Linked DNA regions of Homo sapiens: region 1 is linked to region 2. The links come from fine-mapping of genetic effects on gene expression. Tissue or cell type: whole blood. Region 2 holds a variant in brackets; the other region holds the start of a gene. All regions are shown on one strand. Distances are from middle to middle.

Region 1 (8,139 bases), 150 kb before region 2:
TTTCTATGGCTTGCTTCAAGGGAGAATAAGAGAGTGAGAGACAGGAGGGCAGGAGAAAGCTAGACAGAGACTTTGCTTCTGAGGCTGCTTTTTATTCCTTCATTTTGGGGTATCATTTTTAGCCCCAATAGACCACCATCTCCTCTGGTACAAATTCAACTGCCATTTTGGGATCAAGTCCACATTTGACATTACCTCTCAGGCAACTTTCTGGGCAAAAGAATTTTCTAGGGAAGGTTTTATTTTTCCCTGTCTAGCATTTTTAATGGCACAGAGTCAAGGATTTCAAAACTGTTGCTAAAGGTAGCATTTATCTTGCAGGTATTAATTCAGAAAGTGCTAATGGTTGCAACAGTCTAAACAACTGAAACTTAAAACAACAACGTTTTCTTTTAGCTCAGCCTCTTCCCACAAAGCTCAGAAATGGTATGGGGAGCAGATGTGCACAGGGTGGATAGAGAATGCAGCGTAAAATCCTGCTGGTGGTTTTGGTTTAGAATGTAGATTTTACTTGCACTCTTACCAGGTAGGATCAACTGAAATCAAATGCAAAACAAAACAAGAATAGCAGGTTGATCTGAAAGAACAATCCCAGCATTGACATCATCAAGGTTTAAGCAGATACATATACATAATACATAAATTTAGTATGAATTATTTATGAGCTAAAGGGTTCAGGTTTTAGAGCCTGTAGTATAATAAGAGTTATACTGAAAGTCAGAACCAATACAAGAAACTGAAACACTTAAAAACTCATTATTTCAATATTTAATATCAGGTCCTGTGCAGGGTATTGATAATGGACATAAAAGTGAATCAAGATACAGCCCTGCCCTGGAGAGGCTCCCAGACTCTGTAGTGAAGAGGCATGTAAAGAGACAAATGAGAGCATGCCATGGTAAGTGCTGTGGTCACACAAGGAAGGAAGAGTTATACTTGCCTAGAACCTGTGGAGGCTTCATAGAGAAGGTGACTTTTAAATTATGCCTTCAGGCCAGGCGTGGTGGCTCATGCCTATAATCCCAGCACTTTGGGAGGCCAAGGCGGGTGGATCACCTGAGGTCAGGAGTTTGAGACCAGCCTGGCCAACATGGTGAAAACCCATCTCTACTAAAAAAAATAAATAAATACAAAAATTAGCTGGGCGTGGTGGCGGGCACCTGTAATCCCAGCTAGTCAGGAGGATGAGGCAAGGAGAATTGCTTGAACCTGGAAGGCGGAAGTTGCAGTCAGCGAGATCACACAGCATGAGACTCTGTCTCAGAAAAAATTAATTAATTACGCCTTCAAGGAACAACTCAGCCCAGCCTGAGTTTTCTTACAGCTAACAACAAAACAACAATGTGACACAATTGCTGTTACCATACAACCCACTAGAGGGGTTACAGATATTCTAAGTCTCACCACAACCCTAAAAGGTAGTTATATTCCAATAGACTGATGAGGAAACTGAAGTTCATAGCTAGAGATACAAGATTTAAGCCCAGACCTATTTCATTCCAAATCCCTTACCATAGCCCTGCATAGCCCAGAAATATCTACTTCTGCTTCTATCACCAACCTGTACATGGTTAACTTGTAATTACACAGTCTTTAGTGTGAGAACTACTAACTCTGGAAGTCCAATTAGAATGTCAAAATTTAGCCTAAAGAATTGGGTATAAAGTGAAAGGTCAAGACAGAGTCTGTGCACCCAGTTCATCTAGCTCACAGTACCCTCTCCTTCCTGGAGATGTGCTGAACTTCAAGCACATTTGCTTCAAAATGGTTTATTCTGGTTTGTGTGTATGCATGATTCCCATGAACTATGAACACCCTGAAGTCGGAGAATAAGCCTTGTACTTCTTTAAGACCCTCACTCAAGTTGACTGATTGCTAATTCTACCAGTCCTTTACAGAGAGCTTGCTAAGTGTGGATGTTAATGTGAATTAGGTGGACTGAGGTAAGATCACTAGATTTAAGGTTTACATGCTACAAAATAAGAAGAGGTGAACTAACCAGTGTAGCATAGTTTTTAGACTAGTGGCTTTCAAGCATTAATGTGCATGTGAATCACCTGCCTACACGTGAAGAACTACCCAGTTGATCCAATTAGAAGGCAGACACAAGAGTAGCCAAAAGTATTGCAATAAAGCAACTTGGGGTGGACTCAACTTGCAGGGGATTCAGATCCCAGGTTTCCAAACCTTTTTGCTATTCCTGGTTCTTTTGCTTTCAGTGAAGAGTAGTTAAGTACAATAGTAGCTCTCATTTACTGACTACTTACAAAGTGATTGGCACTGTTCTTGGTGCTTTGAGCATATTAGCTAATTCTCACAGCACCCTGTAGTACTATACCTATAGGGATGATAAGGGGATGTGGGTGGTGGGGAGGGGGCAGATAAAAAGAACAGTAAATTTCCTAAGTTTAAACTGGAAGAATAGGGATTTCATCCTGGTTCACCTGAGTACAAAGTCTAAGGTTCAATGATTCCTTGACACTGGGTAGCAAGGGAGCATTTCAGGGATGCCTAAGCTTGTGGTCAGGTGCCAACGGTACAAAGATAGAAGTATATCAGAGAGCCCTTGCAGAATAAGGCCCTCCACAGGAGGGTTGTGACCTTGGTACTTGCCTCACTGTGTTTAAATTCAGGTAAGGTAAGAGAATTGAAGAGGTAAAGCTACCTTAGAGAGTATTGCTGCATCTACCCTGGTGACTTACAAGGTACTTGAATTTTTTTTTTTCTAGCAAACTGCTAAAGTTAGCCTTTGCCTTTTTCCCAGAGACTCTCTAGGAATTTTTCCCATCTGCTGACTAGGAGGTAAGCCCGGACCTAAATTTTTGTCTTGTTGTAGGTTAATTAAGACTGGTGTTAGATTCAGCTCCTAAGGCCTAAGAGAATTTAAGGTTGTCTTCTGGGAAGGACACCCAACAGCAGCATTGGAATTGGAAAAAAAGTGTAGGATTTTGCTGAGTGAGCAGGGGGAAAGCAATGTAAAGCCCAAGAGAATATCTTTTGAACAAACGTCCTTTTCATTTTGGTTTAGAAATAGAAACGTGGTAAAAGGAGGCGACTGTTTTCTGAAGGCTTGTAGCACGAAAACAGGCCAACTGGCCAGCAACTAGTTGTCTATCAGTTTCTCTACTCACATACATCTGCCTTTTCCAGACTGCCAGCGCGGAGCACTAGTTTGACTTTGGGTGCTCTTCAAATAGCTGGCATTGATAAGGCATTCCCAGAAGACTGTGTTACTTAGTAATCTTGTCGGTACATTTTTTCACTGGGCAGAGATTTTCCAAACAGAGAGCTGCCAGCTTTCAAGACGTCAGAGTGCTTTTTCATCCTGAAATTGGGTGGGAAAATGGGGAGAAGAAAAGCACGGTTCAGATCAATCAATGAGAGAGAACCCCTCCCTCCATACTCGTTAAACAACAGGTGGTTTTGCTGTGCACCGTCAACTCCTTTATGCGGGAGCTGTAGGCGGGGCATTCCAACTGAGTCTCCCTGGAATCTGCCCCTTAGCCCGTATTGCAGGGGCGGTGCAGTTGGGGATTCCGGCCTGAAAGGAGACTTGGTTGTCAAGGGGCTCAAGGGCTTCATGATCCAAGGATATTGGGTTTTGCTTTTCTCCTTCTCCATCTTCCTCATTCTATCCCACCGTCCCCTCCCCACCCTTCTCTTAGGAGGCCTTCGCTTCTCCTGTGGAGGGGTTATCTTCATCCTGACCCTGGCCTTCGGAGGAGTTCCCAGAAGGGCTATTTTTAGTGGTGGCTGCTCCCCTCTAACTTACCCAGGGGAGGAGCTGCGGTGGCTGAGCCGACGCTGCGCGCACAGCCGCCTGTGGTTTTCCGCGCATTGTGAGGGATGAGGGGTGGAGGTGGTATTAGACGCAGCCGAATCCTCCCTCAGAGTCCGCCAGGTGGGCGTCTCAGGGGTGGGAGTGGCCGCGTCGTGAAGCGGAGAGAGGATTTCTCTCCTGGTCCTGGAGAAGGCCCCCGGCGGCCGGCGGCATCCCTCGCTGGCGAGTCCCGGGAGCGAGGTGGTCTCTGCAGGGGAGGAAGTTCCCGGGCGGCGCGGCCTGCGTCACAGCGGGGCTGGCACCGCGGAGTCGACTCGGCGGGCGGTGGCGACCCCGGGGCCGGGCGCTGGGCGGCGCTGGCTGCCGCTAGCCGGGCTGCGTGCGGGGCGGCGCTGGAGGCGGCTCCGTCCGCGGCCGGGGAGGCGGAGGGGAGGAGGGCTTGCGGGGCTGGGGCGTTAGCTGCGTCCCGGCTGGAAGCCCGCGAAGAGAAGTAGGAGGAAGGCGCCGCCGTGGCCGCGGCCGCAGTGCTCGGGCGCGACAAGCCATGAGCAGCGACCCCGCGGGCGACGCCGCCGTCCCTGGCAGCCGCTGAGCCCGACCCCCAGGCAGCTCGCCGCTCCCTAGCACCTTCTCCAGTCGACACTCTCGCGCCCGGAGGTAAGGGCGGGGGATCCGCGGAGGGATGGAGAGGGGCAGCCCGCAGAGGGCCACCCGCTCGGTCCGCTGTGCGCGCCGGACCGGGACTCGCCCCGCCTCACTCGCGTCCTTGCTTCCCCCCGGCTCTCAGACAGGCAGAATGTGGTTGCCCGCCCGGCGTGTGGTGCTGGGAACCTTCCGCTACTGCGGCTCAGGAGCCCGCCAACCCCTACCCCACCCAATCCGCGCTAGCCCGAGCGGCCGCGCGAGGATCTCAGCCTGGCGCCCAACGCCGCGCCGCAGCGGCAGGTCCTGCAGACTGGGCGCGGGGGTGGGGGGGCGGTCCGCGAGGGGAAATGCGTCCGTGGCCGGGGCGATCGTTGTTCTTTCCTACCTCGAAAATCTCTGAGACCCCGGGGCCAGTCCTTTCCGGTCTATCACCCCCCTGCCACCTCCGAACCCTTGAAGTTAGCACTTTTGGGCAGGGAAAGGAATTGGAAGGTTTCTCGAAGAAACGTGAGAGCACCGTGTGCTCACCTGCAGGACAGGAGGGAAGGGGTTCAGCTTGATCGGGCGGGCCCCAGAAGCCAGGTGTTTAGGCCAGCGGTTGAGGCCAAAACCGCTGCCTTCATCCCACGCCTAGGCTCGCTGATCTTTCCCTTTCCAGCTGGTTCCCACCAATGAGATGATTAGGGATGGAGTTAGCAACTCAGGAGCCTTAGATGTGTTCTGTGGACACGAATGCCTTTCTTTTCTCCCTCAGCCGGTTCTTCCCTCCCCAACCCCCACGCCTGCCCGGTATACAGCAAAGTCCAAACAGTTTCTTCCAAACCTCGCATCCTCCGTAGTTTTGCAACAGCCGGACACCTAGCCCGCATCCTAATGCGGATATTTCAGAGTATTACGGCTAAACTTCCCTTGGTTTCAAATTCCTTAAACATGTTAAAGCCTCAGCAAACGTTAGGAAACATTTTCAGGTTCCCATCCTCAAAGTAAAAAATAAGAACCAATCCATCTTTGTTGGAGTGCCGGTGTTTGGCACGGGGAGGCTTGAATTACCTCCATTTAAAGCAGCCTTTGAAGGAAGGAATAGGTAAAGGAAATCGCAGCCGTTTGTAAGTCACATACTTCTTTCGCGGTAGTGTGAGAAACGTAGCCTTAACCAACAGTCACATTTCCCGACAGGTATGTGATGGTTTCCCAAAGCATCGATGAGGCTTCAGCGTGGGCAGGTCATTAAGATGCCATTTAGACGAAAAAGGAGTAAAAGTGGAGTAGTCCTCTTGGTTAGCACAATGCTGCAAAATCGCCAGAGCCAATAATTTTTATACATTTATAAATTCTGTTTATTTTTAAATAATTTGTTGAAAACCCAAAACGTAATCTGAGCTGCATAAAACTCGCTCAATTCATAAACAATGTGTTGAGTGTGTAAACAAACATTAAATGTATACAGCTCTAGTCTAGGATATTTGCATTTCTTGTGACTTGCTTTAACAGGGAAGGCCAAGGCTATAATTGGTTTGCTTTACTCTGGAGTGATTAAGTTCTGTCTTGGGGTCAGTTTGTTTCCTTTGAGGGGGATGTAGGGCAGTTTTGCAAAGATGGATATTTGCCATGGTTCACATAATAGATTGGGCACAGACAGGACCCATCAACCCAACAATTGTATCAGAGATACCAAGTATATTTAACAATTTTCTTATTAATAAAATCAAGCCTTTATTAATAGTACTAATCTATTATTTCTCAGATTAAGCACTTTAATGAAATGTATTTTTAAAAGGGAATGCTTTTAGTGAAAATAATGCATTAGGAGCTGTAAGATAAATGAATGAAAATGTTGCACTTTATTTCCATGAAGTTTATCTTTTAAAAAACAATACAAAGTTAGAAATATGTTTAACTCCCAAGTGTTCAATTTTTACCAAATTGTTATGATTTTTAATACTCTATAGTATTATTAAGTTATAGTCACCTATGACATTATAATAGAGCGAGCCTAAGTTTAAAATGAAATGAGGTGGAAACTATATTTATTTTGCCAAGAATTGTGTTAATGATTTAATATGGTACATTGCTATAACATAATCTAGCTGCATGCTAGATACCTAATACACATTATCTCAGGTTCTTACAATGAACCCCTAAGGTAAATGGTGCCATCCACATTTTACATAAGAAGGAAGTTCAGAGTTTCTGATTTGGCTGAAGACTATGCAGCTAAGTTAGTGCCTGAATGAAGCCAAGCCTCCTTAGTCTTAATGATATACTTTTTTTTATTATCCAAAGCTGCTTATTTATTTTTTCTATATAAATTTGTTGTTAACTCACCATAGTGACTATATGAGGAAACAGAGATTGTAAAGTTTTCTGCCCAGCGTTTTCCATATAACAGAATTCCAATTTTGAATCAAGGCCATCTGTTTCTAAAACCCATGTTCTTGCCACTGATTTCTCTTAAATGACTGATCCAGAGCTTAACCTTATGGACAATTTACTCCTGCCCATCAGCTATTATCACTGACATGACAATGATGGTCTCATGGGCTGTAACACACTCCCAAGATTTTATACTTCATTTCTGGAGTGTTGACTGTATCTCCAGTTTCAGATCACTCATAAAAGCATATTACAACTAATGAGGGTTACATAACCATGGAGGTATCCTTGAATCTACTTGATTCCTTTTGAACTATAAATCATTCTGGTTTGGCATGGGGTAAAGAGAATGGCCTCCAGAAAAAGCTGCTGTCAAATTCGGACTCTGCCGTGCAGTAGGAGTGCAAATGAGGTCAGATTATTCAACTTCTTTGAACCCTGGTTTCCTCTTGTATAATGGGATTAATAAAGCCTCCCTAGCTGGATCACTGTGCAGATTACTTGTAATAGTGCATGTAAAGGACAGCTCTTGTCACCTAGTAGGTGCTCAGTAAGGATTAACACCAGTGTATCCTAGCACTGGTAGAAACTTCTGCTGTATTTCACTTTATGTATATTTTACATGCACGTAGTGATTAGTCATTGCTATCAGTGATTCACTCTTTATGTAATTATACAAAGGTCTAATCTGATTCTTAGCATCTTTAACTTTTGAATCACATCCTTTTTTGTTGTCTTGAGTCAGAAACATGTACTCATTCTATAGTTTTTCCTTTGCTCTTACTCTTTTATTTTATTTTTACTTTACTAACAATATGTTGATGGATCGGAATTTGTATTTTTTGGCAAACATACTTTCCTTTTTTCTGCCTCTCCTGATCTCTTAGCCTTGTATATCACTCAGGGTACCATGACAATGCCAGTCTCTCCCCACCACACACCTCACCCTTGACCAAGCCTCCACCAGCTGAAATTCTGCATCTCCTACAAGGCTCAGCATAAAAGCTACCTCCTTCATGAGCCTGCCTGTTTCCCTCCAGATCCTTGTCAGTTCACTTATAATTCAGACAACACGTACCCCTCCAAAAGTGCTGAGATTACAGGCATGAGGCACAGCACCCGGCCCACTCCTAATGCTATTTTAAAATTTTTTTAAAATTCTTATTTTTCCAGGTAATATATTTGAAAGACTATAAACTCTTTGACGTCAGGGATTTTTAAAAAATTTCTTTATATTTTTGCTTGGGATAATACACAGATGGTTTCTATTTCCTGAATGAGAGACAAATCGGATATTCTGAGATCCTTACAATAATTAGGAAAGACACCCAAATTGTTGG
Region 2 (8,139 bases):
ATTTTTGAGTTTTAGGTGTTCTTCATATATTCCAGATATTAATACTTTATCAGATATGTGCTTTGCAAATATTTCCCCCCACCTAGTAGGTTGTATTTTTGCTTTTAAAGTATCCTTTGATACACACAAGAAAAGTTGTATCCTTTGATTCACAGAAGACTTTTTTTTTTTTTTTTTTTTTTGAGACGGAGTCTCGCCCCGTCACCAGGCTGGGGTGCAGTGGTGCAATCTCGGGTCACTGGAACCTCCACCTCCCGGGTTCAAGTGATGCTTCTGCCTCAGCCTCCCGAGTAGCTGGGATTACAGGCACACGCCACCACACCCAGCTAATTTTTGTATTTTTAGTAGAGACACGATTGTTGGCCAGGATGGTCTCAATCTCCTGACCTCGTGATCTGTCTGCCTTGGCCTCCCAAAATTCTGGGATTACAGGCATGAGCCACTGCGCCCAGCCTTGATTTAATTTCCTACTCTGTGTCTAACATCACATAAAGGATTGTCCAAACAGCAGAATTTGTGTATAGCTCTTTTATATGTGAAAATCTCAGACTAAATAGTTTTATTTACAATAGCCCAAAATTGTAAACAACCCAAATGTTCACCGGTAATAGAATAGATGAATAAACTGTGGAATATTGAAACAGTGGAACAAGGCAGTAATAAAAAAGAATGCAGCCCTACGTTAAGTACAAACATGGATGAATCTCATTGACATACTGATAAGAAAGGAGGCCAGACACAAAACTATACATATATTATGTTTCCTTTTAGTATTAAGTTAGAGAGCAGGCAACACAAATCTATGGTTATAGAAGTCAGGTCTGTGGTTACATGAAGTGGGATATTGAGAAGAGACATAAGAGAGACAAAGAAGCCTTCTGAGCTGTTGGAAATATATCTTGATCTAGGCAGTGGCTACATGGGTGTGTGTGTGTGTGTGTGTGTAAATTCATCAAGTTTACACAGGATTTGTACACTTTGCTGTTTATATATTATACCTCAATTTAAAATATTTTTAAATCTCTGGCTAATGGTGAGGTTCACAGAGTTCATGTTAGTATATCATCATAGTGATTTTTCTCATCAGAATATAGTCTGGCCTCTTTGGGAAGTTTTCAAATGATAACTGAGTTTAATCAATCAGCAGCAAACAAAGGCTCTTTAACAGTCACAGAGTCGGCCGGGCACGGTGGCTTACACCTGTAATCCCAGCACTTTGGGAGGCTGAGGCTGGTGGATCACCTGAGGTCAGGAGTTCAAGATCAGCCTGGCCAACGTGGTGAAACCCTGTCTCTACTAAAAATAAAAAATTAGCCAGGCATGGCGGCAGACACCTGTAATCCCAGCTACTCAGGAGGCTGAGGCTGGAGAATTGCTTGAACCCAGGAGGTGGAAGTTGCAGTGAGCCAAGATCGCGCCATTGCACTCCAGCCTGGGCCACAAGAGCAAAACTCCGTCTCAAAAAAAAAAAAAAAATGAAAAAGTCACGGAGTCTTGGAAATTTGCTTGTCGCAGAAAGAGTTTTCTTGAGGACTAGAGAGAAGGGTAGTAAATCATGTGCTTCTATATTGATGTTATATTCACAAAATAAATATAGATTGCCTGGAAAAAATCAGCAAGTAATGAAGTAGGATGCTTTGATTGCTGTAGTATTTGAAACTATACCCTGATGGTTGCTCAGAGATGAGAGTTGTTGCTAAGATATTTTAGATACCAGGAAAAGAGATTGAAAAAGATTATGAGCACGAAAGCAGATTTTTTAAAAAAATACAAGTTCAAGTGTGTGTTGTTTTGACGCAGACTCAGAAGTGAAATTGGGAAGGCACAAAGTGATAGCATTGGGCTTCAATCTGTTCACTGACTATTCCCTCAGTAAAGAATTGAAGTTGTGGAAATGATCCCTGTCACACAGGCTATCTGAAGCAAATTAGATTTTTAAAAATCATATAGGTGGAGACCGAGGTGGCTAGAAATATCAATCATCACTCTAGGTCAATGGAGTAGGGAGATGATTAGCCCCTGGGCTGCAAGAGTGAGTGGGAAGATCAGGCAATTCTGGACAAGATTATCACACCCTAGAAGATTAGACTAATATTCAAAATTAAATTTATAAAATGGCCCACCAAAAATAGGATGAAAAACAGTAAAGATGGGGGCGGGCGGTTGCATGTTTGGTTCAATTCATCTTGGGTCCTGAGACAAGATGGAAAATGAATCACTAAGTAAAAGTGCAGTAGAAAAAGCACTAAGACTTTCCAAATGGAAAAACATACTTGAGCAACGTGTGCTATTTCAAAAGTTTTCAAGATACTGTAATAAGTTAACAAAAGTATGACAAAGAAAAATGTATAGTATTCAAGAGCCAAAAGTTATACTCTATAAGCATATATATCATGTTTTCCTCACTGAGTAGAAGGATATTTTCTTCTTTAAGAAGCATTAATTTTTCTTTTTTTTTTTTGAGACAGAGTCTCACTCTGTCACCAGGCTAGAGTGCAATGGCGCAATCTCAGCTCACTGCAACCTCCGCCTCCTGGGTTCAAGCAATTCTCCTGTCTCAGCCTCCCGAGTAGCTGGAACTACAGGCATGCGCCACCACGCCCAGCTAATTTTTGTATTTTTAGTAGAGACAGTGTTTCACTATGTTGGCCAGGATGGTCATGATCTCTTGACCTCGTGATCCGCCCACCTCAGCCTCCCAAAGTTCTGGATTACAGGCGTGAGCCACCGCGCCCAGCCAAAGCATTAATTTTTAAAGGCATTAGAAATTCAACTTTCATTAAGCAAGCAGTATGCAATAGATGTGGAAGTCCTCAGGCACTATGCTATGATTTGAATACTATCTAAATTTCAGGAAAGAGCCCCCATCCCATATCTTTAAAGTGAATTATTTAAAAATTGGAAATTAACCTTTTTTAACAAAAGATTACAGGAATAACTGTATACATATTTTCACATATGTAATTTCCAGTGTCATTATAAAGGGATCTGAATAGGTGCTAACATCAACAATAGGGATCAAAAAAGAGCTGAGCTTCAGTGCCACGACGACATTCCAATGTGTTGTCTGTTTTTGAATTGAACAAGCAGTAAAGGTTATAAAGTGTCTATCTATTTCAAAAAGATCATGAGAAACAGGACTGACCCCGCCTGTCCCTGACAGCTTATGCATTATATGGTTTTTCATTCCAGCATTCAATGATTTCAAGTGTCTCACACACAGAGTTGATTATTCATAGTGCTCATACAACCAACAGATGGCAGAATTGGCCATGTTGTTATTCTATGATGACTACAAATCTAGATCTATATCAAGCAGGATAGTTTTTTTTTTTTTTTAGACAAGATCTCACTCTGTCACTTAGGCTGGAGTGCAGTGGCGCCATCATGCCTCACTGCAGATTTGACCTCCTGGGCTCAAGCAATCCTCCCACCTCAGCCTCCTGAACACATGCCACCACACCCAGCTAATTTTTTTAATTTTTTTGTAGAGATGAGGTCTCACTATGCTGCCCAGGCTTGTCTTTAACTCCTAGCCTAAGTAATCCTTTCATTTTGACTTCCCAGAATGCTGGAATTATAGGCATGAGCCACCTTGTCAGGCCAGATTTTTTTCTTAAAATTGTTGTGGCCGAGTGCAGTGGTACATGCCTATTGTTCTAGCTATTCAGGAGGCTAAGGTGGGAGAATCACATGAGTCCAGGTGTTTGAGGCCAGCCTGGGCAATATGGCAAGACCTCGACTCTAAAAATGTATAATAATAATAAAGATGGTTGCGTATCCCCCTAGGAATCAGAATGTCTTACACATACACATCCATATACTCTTGCTCTTTCCAATTTTAAAGTATGTTTCTGGGCTTTTTTCCCTAAAACATACCAAAAGAAAGGATCTCACCTTCAACTATTACTGCATGGTAACAGCACAGTCAGTTCAAGAAAAGACAGAGCTCATGAGCTGTTTTTTTTTTTTTTCTTTTCTCACAACACATCTGGCACCAAATGAGATTTTTCCTCCCACCAACCAATTCTCCAACTCTCCAGACAACAACTGGCTGTTGTACAATTCAATTCAATTCTGACACTAACTGCCAGAGTTGGTGTCAGATGCTAAAAGTGAAAGGGCTCAGTTCCACAAAACTGTCTCCACATCAGACTTCAGATGCCAATCACAAGTCCAGGACATCTGGGCTTCTGACCCACCAGCTACAGATCAGGGGTTCCCACAACCCCCTCCTAGAACAGCTCACAGAACTTAGTTAAACACTTTACATATTAGTACCAGTTTATTATAAACTCAGAAACAGCCAAACTCAGAAACAGCCAAATGGA[A/G]AAGACGCACAAGTCGAGGTGTGGGGGTGGTGCGTGGAGTTTCCTCTGGCACCCTCCCAGCACCTTGATGTGGTCACCAAGTATTTAGGGGGTTTTATGGAGGTTTCATCATGTCGGCATGATTGATTATTAACTGAAGCCCTAGCTTCTCTCCCTTGGAGGATGGGACTGAATTTTCCAAGTTTCTCATCAAGACTGGGTCTTCCTGGCAACCAACCTCAATCCCAAAGTTATAAAGGAGCCCAGCAAGAGTTGCCTCATTAGAACAAAGATGCTCTTATCACTCAGAGAATTACTAGAGCTTTAGGAGCTCTATGCCAGGAACCAGAAACAAATACATATTTCTCTGGGTTCTTTCTTTATACATATCTCATTTTAAAAAGGCAGCTCTTCCAATAAAGAAAAGTTCAGAATCAGCATAAACTATCATCAGCCTTTCTGTTGCAGTATAACTGCTGGACTTTCCTCATTTCCCAAAGTGACCCTAAAATCAATCAGACCTGACCTGGGGCCAGATCAGACTTCCCTGAGCTCGGATTCTCTGGGCCCAAATTGTGGTTCCAAACAGCTCCAGCCCACAGTCTCCTCTCTGCCCTTCATCACCTCCTAGGTACATGTGAGAGACTCAGATCTATGGTTTTACATCTGTTCTAAAGGGAATTCAACTCATCCCAGGGGTTGGTTCACACACATAAAAACAAGGAAACTAAGCTCCTAATTAACATGTGCATATTATTTGTCTTCCACTTCTTGCAGGATCACGGGATCAAATGCTATATATATATGAGTAGCTTCTGCAATGCCAGGAATCTCATGACCCCCTCTCCACTGGCAAAAATAATATTAATAGCTAGCCCTTATTGAGCATTCACTATGTGTCAGACACTGTTCTAAATACTTTAGAATAGTGCACTGCACTTATTCATTCAGCAAGTTTTTAGTGAGTGCCACTCTTTGCCAGGCACAGTCCTAAACACTGGGGCTAGAGCAGTAAGTGAATAAAAATACATGCCTTCACAGAGCGTATAGCCTAATGAGAGAAGAAAAATAATAAACAAAGTAAATAAACTATATAGTATATTGGAAAGTTATAAGCCTGTAACTGAACACAGTTTCAGTCACTGCTTGCAGAGTCCAATTAACAAGAGCGAGGTATGGTAGGGGAAAATTGACTTTATTTCCAAAGTTGGCTAAGGGGAAGTGGCTGGATTCCTATCCAAAGCAACCAGTTTGAATTTTGAGGTGGAAAGGCAAGCGTTTAAAAAGGGAAGACCTGATATGGAAGGGATGCAGGAATTGCACTGAGTTTTATTCCAGTGGCTATCTTGGGTCCCGGTCCACCTGGAGTGTGGGCTGGCGTTCATCTCAACAATGGCCAGGTTGTTGATTAGCCACCTTGAGGTAATCTCTGGAATTCTGCAGCTGGGTCTCCAGGCTTGATCTGTCTCTCTCAGGATTTGTCCCTGGAACTTCTAAGTAGGCACCTAGTTAGATACTAACATATAGTTAGATAAATGTGAAGGGCGTGTATACGGTGAGAAAGGGAGGGATGGGGAGTCTATTTTAAGGCTAAGGGAAAAGGCTTCTGCAGTTTGCTTCAAGGTTACATCTTGAAACCCAAGAGAAAGGAAAAAAAATTTTAAAATGCATTTTGAAGTTAAGCTGCCCCTTTACAGGCCCATACAGAAAACGATGCAGGTAACAGGGATAGGGTGTGCTGGTGTAGGATGAGGGACAATTGCCATTCAAATAGAGTGATCAGGAACCTCAGGGAAAAGATGGCATATGAGCAAAGAGTCAATGCAAAAGGCCTGGGGCCCGAGCTTTACTGGCATGGTCAAAAAGGATGCAGTGTAGCTGAAGTGGAGTGAACAAGGGACAGAGTCACAGGAGGTGAGGCTGAAGAAGTAAGGACAGGGTGGTTGGGCAGATTATGAAGTCTTTTATGTCATTGTAAGGAATCTGACCTCGACCAGGCGTGGTGGCTCACACCTGTAATTTCAGCACTTTGGGAGGCTGAGGCAGGTGGATCACTTGAGCTCACGAGTTTGAGATCAGCCTGGGCAACACGGCAAAACCCTGTCTCTACCAAAAATACAAAAAATTAGCCAGACATGGTGGCACGCACTTATAGTCCCAGCTACTCAGGAGGCAGAGGAAGGATGGATTGAGCCTGGGAAGTGGAGGCTGGAGTAAGCTGAAATTGCACCACTGCACTCCAGCCAGGGTGATAGAGCCAGACCTTGTCTTAAAAAAAAAAAAAAAAAGGAATTTGACATTTACTTTGAGTGGAAAGGAAAGCTATGGAGTGTCTTGATCTAATTTATGTTCTAACAGAGTCTTTGCAGCTCCCATGTTGAGCAGAGACTGCAGAGTTAAGGATATAAACAAGGAGACCATTTAGGGGGCTATTATAACAACCCAGGTAAGATATTGTCTTAGATCTGGATCCTTGGAAACTAACTCTGAGATGAGCAATTACATCCACAGGGTTATAGAGCGTGCTCTTGGGAGATACTTGTGTCAGGACTTGAGGAAAGCATAATAGGTCAGAGAGAGAAGCTGACCTGAAAGATGGTGGCATCTGACGCCTCAGCCAATCCTATGGGGAGCCCTGGAGCTGGGATGGCCCTTCAGAGTTGTCCAAAATTAGGTTAGTTTTCCATGGCTGCTATAACAAATTACCACAAGCTTGGTGGCTTAAAACAACAGAAGTGTATTATTTTACAATTCTAAATAACAGAATTGTAAGAGCCCGAAATGAGTCTCATGGGACTAGTAAGGTGTCAGCAGAGCTGCATTCTGCTAGAGACTTGAGAGGGAGGATCTGTTTCCCTGCCTTTTCCTGCTGTTAGAAGCTTAGAAGCTGCCTGCATTGCACCTTTTAGAGGCCAACTGAATCCCAGCAATTGCCATCACATCAACACATCTCTTCCTCTGACTCTGACTCCTGCCTCCCTCTTTCATTTACATGGAGGCTTGTGATTACATTGGGCCCACCCAAATGATCCAGGACAATCTCTACATCAGAACGTCAACTGGTTAGCAACCTTACTTCCCCTTGCCATGTAACCTAACACATTCACAGGTCTGGGGATTAAGCTATCATTCTGTCTACCACAGGCAAGGTGGCCAGGTGTTCGTATCCATACATTGGCCAGGCTTTGGTGGGGGGCTGCCCCTTGGGAGAGCAAGGCAGTTCTCAGCCAAGGCAATCCCCATGAGGGACACACCTGTATGCCTTTGACAGCCAACATTCCCAGCAGGTGGAGGACAGGGACCTCAGCTCTGAAGAGGATACCTGGGAGGAATGACCAATATGGTAATCACTGTAGCACAAAGCAATTGGATGTTGGATCTATTTTGAAATTAGATTCAGCAGGATTTGCTGATGAGAAAAAAGGTCTCAAGGATACTCCATGATTTAGGGACTGAACAATGGAAAACTAGATCTGCTGTTAATTAGACAAAAAACACTGAATCAGTACTGCCTCATTTAATCCTTAAGATTAAACTGAGGAGAGTACTTTTATTTACTTCATAATACAGTCGAGGAGATTGAGGCACAAAGATGTAAAGAAACCCGTCCAAGGCCACTCAGTGAACAAGTGACAAAGCCAGGATTTGAACGATTTGAACCCAGCCAGTGCCCCCCAAAACACTCCGTTTTATCATTTTAAAATGATAACGGAACCCTTTCTATAAAATAGTTGTTTAGGGATCCAAAATTGAGCTTAACATTATTTTACAGAATCTTGACCTTTCACTCTGGGCCTAGAACCATGTCTGACACAGGCTGGAATGTTTG

Evidence for each region. PIP is the estimated chance that this variant, and not a neighbour inherited with it, causes the effect.
Region 1: LRRC8C starts here. The variant in region 2 is fine-mapped to the expression of LRRC8C in whole blood (TOPMed, PIP 0.96).

Annotation. Positions count from the first base shown.
Region 1 is chr1:89,628,885-89,637,023 of GRCh38, forward strand. LRRC8C (leucine rich repeat containing 8 VRAC subunit C) reads left to right here and starts at 4,236. Exons shown (of 3, transcript NM_032270.5): 1 at 4,236-4,438. LRRC8C-DT (LRRC8C divergent transcript) reads right to left here and starts at 4,010. Exons shown (of 3, transcript NR_033981.1): 1 at 3,773-4,010; 2 at 3,132-3,325. RefSeq lists a silencer at 4,038-4,697 and enhancers at 5,078-5,127, 5,158-5,207.
Region 2 is chr1:89,777,586-89,785,724 of GRCh38, forward strand. All of the region lies in intron 1 of LOC107985744 (a long non-coding RNA gene), which reads left to right. Among named protein-coding and RNA genes, the nearest start is that of LRRC8D, 39 kb to the right of the region's middle. The variant A/G (reference allele first, on the strand shown) is at 4,332.